2 separate regions of the Homo sapiens genome follow, and region 2 is linked to region 1. The links come from fine-mapping of genetic effects on gene expression. A gene starts in region 1. The other region holds a variant in brackets. All regions are shown on one strand. Distances are from middle to middle.

Region 1 (5,375 bases):
TTTAAAATTTCTAAAAATAAGTTATATTCTCATCTATGCCCTAACGAATCAAAACAAAACACAAAGAAATGATGCAGATGTTCTCACTATTCACTAACTCATGGGATTTGAACTAAGATTTGGCAGCTAGACTAGTAAATGCTGTCTATATAGCCTTTTGCATATTACAGACAGTGCCTGACTAGCTGAATTACAGCCCCAAAAGTCTTTCCTCTGCCTTTCACACATGGCTGTAAAAGTTAGAGTTAAGAAAAAAATTTACAAATTCTCAAAACTATACAGAAAAAGCTGTTTAAAGTCTGCCAAAGTTTTAAAAAATTAACAACAATAAAAAGAAAACCTCACCACATAAACCCATACACTTAAAATGAATACGATGGAATACGCTATAGAAAGAAAATCTTAATTATGACCTTAGGAGCATGTGAGTCTGTGTGTATACATATCCACAATACACAGACATATGTAAACTGCACCACAAACCATCAAGCCCCATTAAGCTCAAGGACTATTAAAGATATATTAATATTTCCAAAGCGAGCTGCTGAGAAAGAAATGAGAAGGAGATAACATATTAAATTTTTATCCAGAATTTTCTAGCATTTTGCCATCAAGGGATGGACTGCTACCTAGCCCAGGTAACAATTAACCAGCCCATTATATTTTGATGCACCGTATACTCAGCAGAGCACATTAAGGAAAAACAGTTTGGTTTCTAATAATGTTACAATCACAATTCTCTCTCCCACAAACATCTAAGACGACAGAACCACATTCTATCTATGCTGAAACAAAACCAACAATGCTGTCTATAACAAATTCATAAGAACTACTACATACTATCAGATCTCACTGTATGCTGTCTCTGATCAATGCTTTGAAACTGACGAGTATGCCATAAACATAACGTGCTTTGCAGCAATTTTTACTAGCATAAAAGATACCAGGGCAACAGAGGCTCCTTTAACCTACCACTTCAACAAAATTCTGTAAAATCAAAAGCGTTACAGAAGCTTTCACTCCGCTAGGCACCTAGGTCTTCCTGCAAAACCCAGACTCTATTCAACAGCTCCCTGCAAGAACACACCAGTCTGCCACATATCACATATTGTACCGTCATCGGTACTCAGACACCTGAACCACCTGGACTGACAGAGTTAGGCTGTCAGCTCTGAGATGTCTGCTAGAGTGCAAGAAACACTGAAGCAGCTAAGCCCTTCCAGGTACACCAGGTGGTAACCTTGGCACCAAGTGCCTCTATAGTAAAGTCCCTTTTTCCCTGTTAGAAGATGCGTAAGATCGTTCCAAAGAAAATGTTACAATCCTAAGGGCCTTTTTGCACAACACAGGAAAAGGCTGGCCTTCTCTAGTCAAAAACTCTTGTCTGCGGGGGGAGATGGAGCTACAAATGTAGGAAACCCAGCTTCTAGTCGCAATTCTGTGACAGCTAGCACAGCTAGCAGAGCAACCGCGCCAAGCCAGAGCTCAGTTTTCCCTTCGGCAAAATGGGACTCACCAACGCCACCCCTCCCCCTCGTCAAGGAGTCTGGCACACCCTAGAGGTCTAAGATTACCCGGGACAATACGCGGTGGGGAGGTGCCGCCGCTCCCAGGACGCCCACCCTGAAGCCCCTCTCCCCAACACCCCGAGACAGATACGCAGGGCCGGCGTACCTGGTTTCACAGTCTTGAGACGGATGGGCTCGCGGAAGTGGCGGATGACAGCCAGGGTGTCCCGGTTGGTGAGCCCGCTGACAGGCGTCCCGTTTACCTCCAGCAGCACATCGCCTGGGCTGGGCGCCTTGCCCGAGACGACGCAGCAGGTGCCCCCGCCGGGCTCCTCGCGGAGCCGCCCCAGGTAGGGGAACTCGCCACGCTCCGCGCCACCGCGGATCTCCGCGCCGAAGTCGCCCGGGGGCCCGGCCCAGGACACGGCGCACTCCTGCACCTTGCTGAGCCAGTGCTTCTTCTTCTTCAGCGTCTTCGACATCCCGAACCCCGCTGCACCATGGGGGAGACCCCGCGCGGGCGGCCGGGGCGCCGCTCCGGCCCCGTCTCAGCCCGGGGGCCCTGGGCGGCCCGCGCAGCCCGGTAAGGGGGGCCTCGCCGCTCCGGCCCCCACCCCGCGACCACAGCCCGCTGGGGGCCCGGCCGTTCCCAGACGCGAGACGCCCCTTGGACGCCCCTCCCGGCTGCGCTCCCCGGGGCTGACCGGACTCCGCGAGGGCCACCGCGGGTTAGGCTGAAGAAAGGAAAAGGGAATTGTCCCCAGGAGGTTCCAGAAGGGGCTTCGGGCGGGGTCACTGCCGCCGGCTGGTCCCTGGGCTCAGCGCCCGAGCGGCGGGAAAGGCTGAGGCGGGGGGGCGGGGAGGTGAAGGGGGAAGAGCCGGGAACGGGAAAAATCCGTGGGGGGCGCGCAGAAGCGCGCGTAGACCCGTCGCGGGATCGATCGTGGCCGCTGCGGAGCTGTAGCGCGGAGACCAACGCCTGCCCAAGCTGCCAGGAAACTGCCGCTTTCAAACCAGCCGCAACCTCCTCCTCCTCCCTTTTCCCTTCCCCCGGCCCTCGCCCATCCCTCATCCAGAGCCCCGCCCCCTCCCGCCGCGCGGCGCCCGGCGCGCTGCCGTCACAGGCTGGGCGCTTGGGAACGAGCCCCGGCCCTGGACTCTCGCGCCAGGGATTGGCCCCCGGCGGGCAGGAGGCGGACCGCCAACGAGAATGGGGACCACTGGTTGGTCGGTGCGAGTGGAGGAGGCGGGCACTAGAATGACTGAAGTTTAGAGAGGGTGGAAAAAAGAAGTTTGGAGAGTGAGGGAGGGCGCAGAGGAGGGGCAGGGGAGTGGAAGGGGCTGTAGGTCGCAGGGCCGGGAGAGGCCCTCTGCGCGGCGGCTGGAGCCGAGGAAAACTCGAATCCGAGAGGGACCGAGCTCCCCGAAGTGGGGGCGTGGCCGGCGAGTTAGGCGGAGACGCGGGCGGAGCCTCTGAGCCTGTGCGGGGCGCAGAGAGGGGCCGGTGTGCTTAGATTGGAAGACAACGTGCGGAGTCCTGAGCCGGCCGAGGTTCCGGGGCCTTTAGGGTGGCCTGTTACAGCCGATAGTTTGCATTGAGTGGATATTGCTTGTTCATTCGTTCATTCAACAGATGTTACTGAACGCCCATTGAGGCAGGGCTTCGGAGTCCGGTTGATGAAAGATATTATAAAATAGAGTCCGGCACTGCTGTATGACCTAAGACAAATTAGACAACCTCTCTGAGCCGCAGCGTCCTCAGTGAAAAGTGAAGATTACAGAAGATGTACAAAATAACTGCATAGTGCCTGACAGTGGGTGGTTGCCTCTTAAAGTTTGGTAGCTGCTGCTGCTGCTGCTGATGACGATGACGATTTTGTGTTAGATATTGTGCTAGGTACTGGGATTCAAGGGTGAAGAAAACAGAAGCCCCGCTATTGAGGAGGTTACAGTCTAGTGGGAGAGACTGAGAAGTAAGCAGACTGCCTGAGGTGAGGGAGTGGGGTGGAGGTAGAAGGTGGATTATTAAGAACTAACCTGGTAGCCAGCAGATCTGGTTGGAGTCCTGACATGCTACTTACTTGCTGTTTGACCTTGGCCAAATCTCAGTTAAAGGAGGTGAAGGGAGAACGAACATTAAATAAAAGATATCGTAGATCCCTTCCAGCTCTAATTTTTCAGAAATTTCACTTGAGCTTTCTCTCTTCCCCGGCTTGACTTACACTCTTCCCTGTCTTTGGAATGCCCTTCATCTCATCTCTTTTAAAACTCCTATCCGTCCTCATCCCAAATGCCGGCTCTTCCAGGTAGCTTTCTCTGATTTCTTGCCCTCAAGTGGAAAGTGTTTTCTCTGAGCTATGATCTTTGTTTCACTTTTGCAGCATGACATTTATTTGTGTAGTCTCCTGTCTCCCTTTAATAGTAGGTGAAAGCCCTTATAAAACTCCACACCTCAGATAGACTGGACCAAGCTTCAATAGCTGCAGTGATTTCGTTGACACCATTGTATCAGTCAGGGTCCTGGCAGGAAACAAATGGCATTTTGCAAAGATGTGGGCAGGGTGTGGGAAACCACAAGAGAAGCTGGAACCCTGAGGCTACAGCTCCTAGATCTGTCCAATCGGGAAAGAACAGTTACCGAAAAATCCAGACACACAGGGCCACCTGACAGGAGTCTGTGACCTTCAGTCAACGGATGCAGTCAGCCTAAGTAAACACCCAGCAAAGGACCTGGGGGATTTATATCTAACTCACCACCCTCCTCCAGTCTCCTGCTGGTGCTTGTCAATGGCCAAGTCCAACCAGACGCCAGAGGGCAAGGGAGGCTTTTGATATAGTTCATATCAGTCAGTTTCAGAAAAGGAAACAGTGCATCTGAGGGGAAAATATTCAGCACAGACACCATGTGGATGGCTCAGATTTAACCATATCTGAGACAAAGCTTGGAGTATTTTTTTTCTAAACTACTACCTATACTAATGGATTCCTGGATAAAATCTCCATAACCTACACATCATCTGTTTTTGCAGGAACTCTGGGAAAACATCTTTCTGTGTCTAGATTGCATCTGTTAGAATGCCTTTGGCCTCAAGGAACAGAATATTTGGCAGTAGCTTAAAGCATGAGGTCATTTACTATATCTTCAATATAAATTTCAAGTGCAGATAGTTTCAGGGTTAGTTGAGCAGTACAATCATGTCATCAAGGACCCAAGCTCTTTTTTGTGTTTGCTCTCTGCCATCACATGCATGTGAGCTTTTGTCTCCAGGTTTGTCACCTCTTAATTGCAATGTGGCTGCCATAGCTCCAGACATCACATCCACAGAGGTCACTGCACAGAGCAGGAACGGAAGAAAAGGAAGTGCTGTCCCCCATTTTTATGAAGGAGAAAAATATTTCCCAGACTTTAGAATCTTCCTTATTGTCCAGAAAATGGTCATATGCCACATCAGACCAGTCACTGGCAAAAAGAGATAGGATTGGCCACAGTTCATTAAATTGATCACAAGTCACCCCTAAACAAAATGAGTGTTCTGACTGAGAGCAGAAAAGGGGAAATAGTTGCTAAGTAGGCATCCAACAGTGTTTGCCACATGCCTCAACCATGAATAAGTTGTATTCATTCTTGGGCAGAAAACTGCAGTGGTTCAGAGCTTGAGCAAATCAGACTGCAAATCCCAGCTTTTCTACTTACTGCAAATCCCAGCTTTTCTACTGCTAGCTCTGTGATCTTGAGCAAGCTATTTAACCTTGCCTATCCTCAATTTCCTCATCCACAAAATGGGTTTGATGACAGTGTTTACCTGAGTTGTTGTGAGAACTGTATGAAGCTATTTGAGTCAAGTAATTTGAGTCAAGCTATTTGAT
Region 2 (5,375 bases), 200 kb after region 1:
GACATATTTAGGTGGTTTGCAGTCACTTTTATGTAGAGTTGGTTTTTGCTAGCCATCTCAGTGCAGAAATGGCTCCCAGAAACATGCTTACTGCCTGTGGTGCCAACTTATCTGGCATTATGACACTCAAATGCCGGGCCAAAGACCATATGAGATTTGCGAGTGTCCTATGCAACCTGGCCCTGGAAGCATGTGGGTAATGGAGGAGAAACAAGATTTGAACTGTATAGAGCCAAAAGCTAGTCTGTAGGAAATTCTTCCAATCATCGGATGTGTAAGATTGTAAGTGCAGAATCCAGTTCTCACTGATACCTAGTCATATGCATTAGGCATATATATATTGAGTAATGCGGCGATACAAGTACATGCTTTCCTTTTTTTCCCCTTTTTAAAATGACAAATATAATTTATCAGAATTCCTGTGTTCGTAGGATACAAACTGTAGCGGTCCTACAAACAAGTATGTCTGGCTGTGGTCACATGTGTTTATGCATCCCATCAATCATAAATATAATTTTTATTATGCCAGAGGACTTAATTCTCATTCCATTCTCTATATGGAAAATATTACAAAATCATTACATATGATGAGGCAATAAGAGTATTATTCAGCCAAAAAATGTGGAGAAAGACTTATTGCAGTGTGTTAGGCAGTTAACTAAGAAAAACATGATATTATTTTTCTATATTTTGTGATATTTGAAGTATTTTTCCACTTTAAAAGCTTTACAATTTATTTATTTTCCCAATCTACATAAAGGTCCACTTTCCTGCCTAATTTTGTTTCTGTAATTTTGTGTTTTTCTTAAAGAGAACCCTCGGCCGGGTGTGGTGGCTCATGCCTGTAATCCCAGCACTTTGGGAGGCCAAGTGGGGGGTGGATCACGAGGTCAGGAGTTCAAGACCTGCCTGGCCAAGATGGTGAAACCCATCTCTACTAAAAACACACAAAAATTAGCCGGGCACGGTGGCAGACACCTGTAATCCCAGTCACTTGGGAGGGTGAGGCAGAAGAATCGCTTGAACTCGGAGGGTGGAGGTTGCAGTGAGCCGAGATCGCGCCACTGCACTTCAGCCTGGTGACAGAGTGAGACTCCGTCTCAAAAAAATAAATAAATAAAACCTCAAATTGTCTAAGCTTCAGGCCCCACAAAACCTGAGTTCACCCCTGGAACATACAATTCTTTATTCCTTGTCATGGTCTAATGGGAGAACCCTATTGCCTCCCTCCTTTACCACATATGTAACCAGTGCCTGCTGCATGCCAGATTTCTGAGCTAGGGATGGGCACACTATCATGGATAAAACAGACCTGGCCCCTTCCCACGTGGAGAGAAGCAGACAGACATCAAATAAACGAAGTCATACAGGATGCTGTGGGAGAGAAAAGGGGTGGGGACCTCTTGCAGGAAATAATGTTTCAGCAGAGACTCAAAGAATATGTAAGAGTTACCCAGATGAAGAGTAGAAGGATGAACGTGCAAGTGGAAAGAACAGCATGAGAGAAGGCCCTGAGGTGGGAAGGGCTTGGTGCATTACAGGTACTCAGTAAATATCTATTGAATTAATTTTTTAAAATTATGATTTGGGCAGGGCCAGGGTGCTATGGGAGCATATAAGAATGGCACAGAACCCTTGCCTACCCCAACCAGCAACAAAGGAATGAGGAATGAGAAAGAGTTACGTTAGAATTGACTTCCTGACTTTCAGGAGGAGAAATAGCATGTGCAAAGGCCCTGGGGTCAGAGAGAGATCAGAGAGCAGTTCTGTATGGCTGGACCATAGTGGGATGGATTTGAGGAGGGGCATTTGTTGAGGGGAGAATGAGAATTGGCAAGAAATGAGGCTGGAAATGTAAACCAGAGCCAGATCATGAAGGGCCTCATAAGCCATGGTAAGCTGTGTAGATTTCATTTGGATGCTGTGGTGAGGTGGTGTTAGGGAAGGAAATCATAGGCTCAGGCCAGCACGTTGGAAAGATCTGGTTGCATGGTCAAGAGAGGACTGGATGGGCCGGGCGCGGTGGCTCACGCCTGTAATCCCAGCACTTTGGGAGGCTAAGGCAGGCGGATCACAAGGTCAGGAGATTGAGACCATCCTGGCTAACATAGTGAAACCCCATATCTATTAAAAATACAAAAATTAGCCAGGCGTGGTGGTGGGCCCCTGTAATCCCAGCTACTCAGGAGGCTGAGGCAGGAGAAAGGCGTGAACCCAGGAGGCGGAGCTTGTGGTGAGCCGAGATTGCACCACTGCACTCTAGTCTGGGTGACAGAGTGAGACTCCATCTCAAAAAAAAAAAAGAGGACTGGATGAGACGGCAAAGTTGTTAGAGAAATTCAGGCAAGAGAGGGTGGTGGCCACAGGTAGTGTGGCATGGGGAGAAAGAAGTAGACAGCTCCAAAGGGGAACATTGTGTACCTGATGGAGTTAGGTAGGCAAGATAAGAGTCACATCAGGGCAGACGCCAGGCTGGTGCATAGTTCCTCTTTCTTCCTGAAGCTAGCTAACCTCATGGGAGACAGGGTTCCTGGTTTACAATGGAGGGTGTTACAGGACTGCCTGCATCCTTGGCTACTGGTCACCATGCCCTGCTTATTTTCTGCTCACTCTGTCCTCTGACTTTTCACTGGGTTTGGCCAATGGGGAGCTCACAAATACTGCAGAGCAGAGGAACAGGGTCCCCCATAAGGACCTTGCCTCCCCATGAGGAGGCCCAAGGCTGGCTGTGCCCCTCAGTCTCTCTCAAGGTAACCTTGTCATCTCTACCTTCCTCTACATGACTTTTTTACTTCCTGGTTTCAATGTCCACTCCCTCCCCTTTCACTTGG[G/A]CCTGGGGTGGTATACAGCTCAGCTTACGGGCTGCAAAAACACCCCAACATCCCTTCTGGTTCCCACGACTTCACCCACACCTTTGTTAAATTCACCCTCCTTGAGTTACTCTAATGAGTGTGACATCTGTTTCCTGTTGGGACTCTGAGTCACACACTTCTGACACCAGGCTGAATTGTTCATAAAATAATTCCCAGTTCCTTTAAATCAGACCACACCCCCGCAAGCCCAACAGCCAATAAGGCAAGAACACACGCTCCAACCGTTTACCTGGTGTGCAATCAGGATCTTCGTACGCCTCCTTCCCCTGGTCAAGTTCTGCTCCTAGCCACCCAGATTTGAGTAGGGCTCAGATTCCCCAGCTGTGACCCTGGGGATTTTCCTAGCGCTGGGCACCGCCCACCACACTGCCCCACACAGGATGCCGCTGCCAGGTTCGGCGCCTTGGGCTAGGACAGGGTATGCAGGGACAAGGGAAGGTAGGTAGCCTCAAGGTTCCTTTTCACCAACCCTGCTGAGACCTGGGGATCCCATCATCAAGTGGCCACTGACCTCCCCTGAGAGGGCTGGAAAAACTTGCAAAATGGTTCTGACTCACTGTTCTCTAGGCTTTCTGCTGACCTGTGATCACCTGCGTGTCTGTCTGGGTGTGTATAAATGGGTCTGTGTCTGTGGTATTTTTGTCTGTTTTTCCCTCCCCAACTCCAGAATGTAAACACACTGAAGGAAGGGACTTGTCTTGTTCTCCACTGTATCCCAGTGCCCAGCCCAGTGCCTGGGACACAGTAGTTAGTGGATAAGTATTTGTTGACCAACAGACCAGTGACTGGTCTCTCATCATCTGTTTACAGTCTTCCCCCAGACAACATAGAGCTCCACCGATTAGATTTCCTAATTACATTCCTTTTCAGTCTTGCCTCCCTGAGATGAGCCTTGTCAGCATCGTGAATATTTCCAGCAACTCCTCAATCACACATTTATAGCTTTTTTATGGGATACTCCTACAACCTGATTAATGTCTTTATTGCCCTAAGCACTGACAAGTTTCCAGGGACTCGCACATGAAATTCAAAATAAAATTTTATAGCACATGAAATTCAAAATAAAATTTTATTTTTTGGTTTAACATGAAAGTTTATGCTAAAATTTTAAAAAGCAACTTTCTAGATTTTCTGCCTGCAAAATTGTGAATAAGCTCATTACAGCTGAACTTATCCTTCTTTCTCTCTGTTTGCTGGTGCCCTAGGCAACTGTTTGGTTTGTCTATCGGGCATTAGTTATTTTCATATACGAGTAATTCCATTACTAGTTTTTCACAAGCCAGAATGGAGTTCTTGGGAGCATGGAGACGACAGGGAAGAGTCAATGTCCCATTACCCCACATGTGTTGTTTTTCAACCTAGGCACTACTGGCTGGACATGGGACTAACCCGCTCATTGCAGGACATTTATCATTTCTGAGTTCCAGGCGCTAAATGCTGCTAGCATCCCCCAGTCATTGTAACAATTAACAACAAAAGGGCCTCCAAAATCTCCCTAAGGGAGCAGTTCTACCTCAGGTCAAGAAGCATCATTCCCGGCGTGGCTGAATGTAGGTTAAAAGAATGTTCTTTGAAAGGTCCTTCCTTACCCTGCATGTCTGGAATGCACACCCCTTTCTGTTCCTCCTCACTGATGGGACCCAGGTTCTATAAGACCATTCCTGGGCAATGGAGCCCACAACTTCTCTCTACTGTGAGTAAGAACAGTGTGATTAGTGCCACTCCTTAACATTTTGTCATGTGGCATGACTCTCATTATAACATCACCTTTCATGTTAATTAGCTCTCAGAACATTTCAAAATCTGCATGTGTGTCTCTCTGACTAAGTTATGAGCTCCCGGGGGCAGAAGCCATGTTTTATAACTCTTCACGTAGGAGAGAAGGTTGGTTTTAGGGGTGAAGTGACTCAGGAAGAGGTGTCTAGAAAGCAACTTGGAATTAGGGTCTGAAATCCAAGGGGAGGTTAGAGCTAGACACAGACTCGGGATGCAGCTGCCCACAGGGAGAGCTGAAATTATGGTAGGAGAAGGGATGACATCAGTTCAAGGACATCACTTTGAGAAATGACCACCTTTAGGATGTGGGAGGAAAATAAAATCCAATAAAGGAAAAGGCAGAATGGTAGGGTTGTGGGAAGTGATGGAATGTTGCTGCATCTCAGAAGGTGACAGGGAGGGGACTGGTTATCAGGACCAGAAGGAGGCAGGACTGAGGAGAGCCTGCCCTGTCTGCCAGCTGAGAAGCCGATGGCAACCTTTGGGACTCTCTCAGTAGAGTGGTAAGAATGGACAAGGCTGTGAAGGACTAAGAAGTGGGGAAACTATGGCAGAGAGTGCAGGTTTCAAGAATTGCAGAAGCGAAGACAAGACGGCAGTCATGTGAAAGGGCGACTTGGCACATAGGAGGCATTCCTAAATAGATCTGTTTGTATAAATGTGTTCTTGATACAAATATTTATTTTTATAAATATATGTTAATATTATAGGAGAGATGGAAACAGT

The links. PIP is the estimated chance that this variant, and not a neighbour inherited with it, causes the effect. A credible set is the group of variants that fine-mapping cannot tell apart.
Region 2: its variant is the best candidate, but not a certain one, in a credible set for the expression of MAGI3 in whole blood (TOPMed, PIP 0.72).

The regions. Positions count from the first base shown.
Region 1 is chr1:113,387,649-113,393,023 of GRCh38, reverse strand. MAGI3 (membrane associated guanylate kinase, WW and PDZ domain containing 3) reads right to left here and starts at 2,509. Exons shown (of 21, transcript NM_001142782.2): 1 at 1,675-2,509. The coding sequence starts at 1,990. RefSeq lists enhancers at 1,464-1,513, 1,564-2,063 and silencers at 1,744-1,903, 1,964-2,093, 2,504-2,863, 2,894-2,943, 3,933-4,177.
Region 2 is chr1:113,189,561-113,194,935 of GRCh38, reverse strand. No RefSeq gene overlaps it. Among named protein-coding and RNA genes, the nearest start is that of LRIG2, 120 kb to the right of the region's middle. RefSeq lists an enhancer at 2,612-2,721. The variant G/A (reference allele first, on the strand shown) is at 2,832.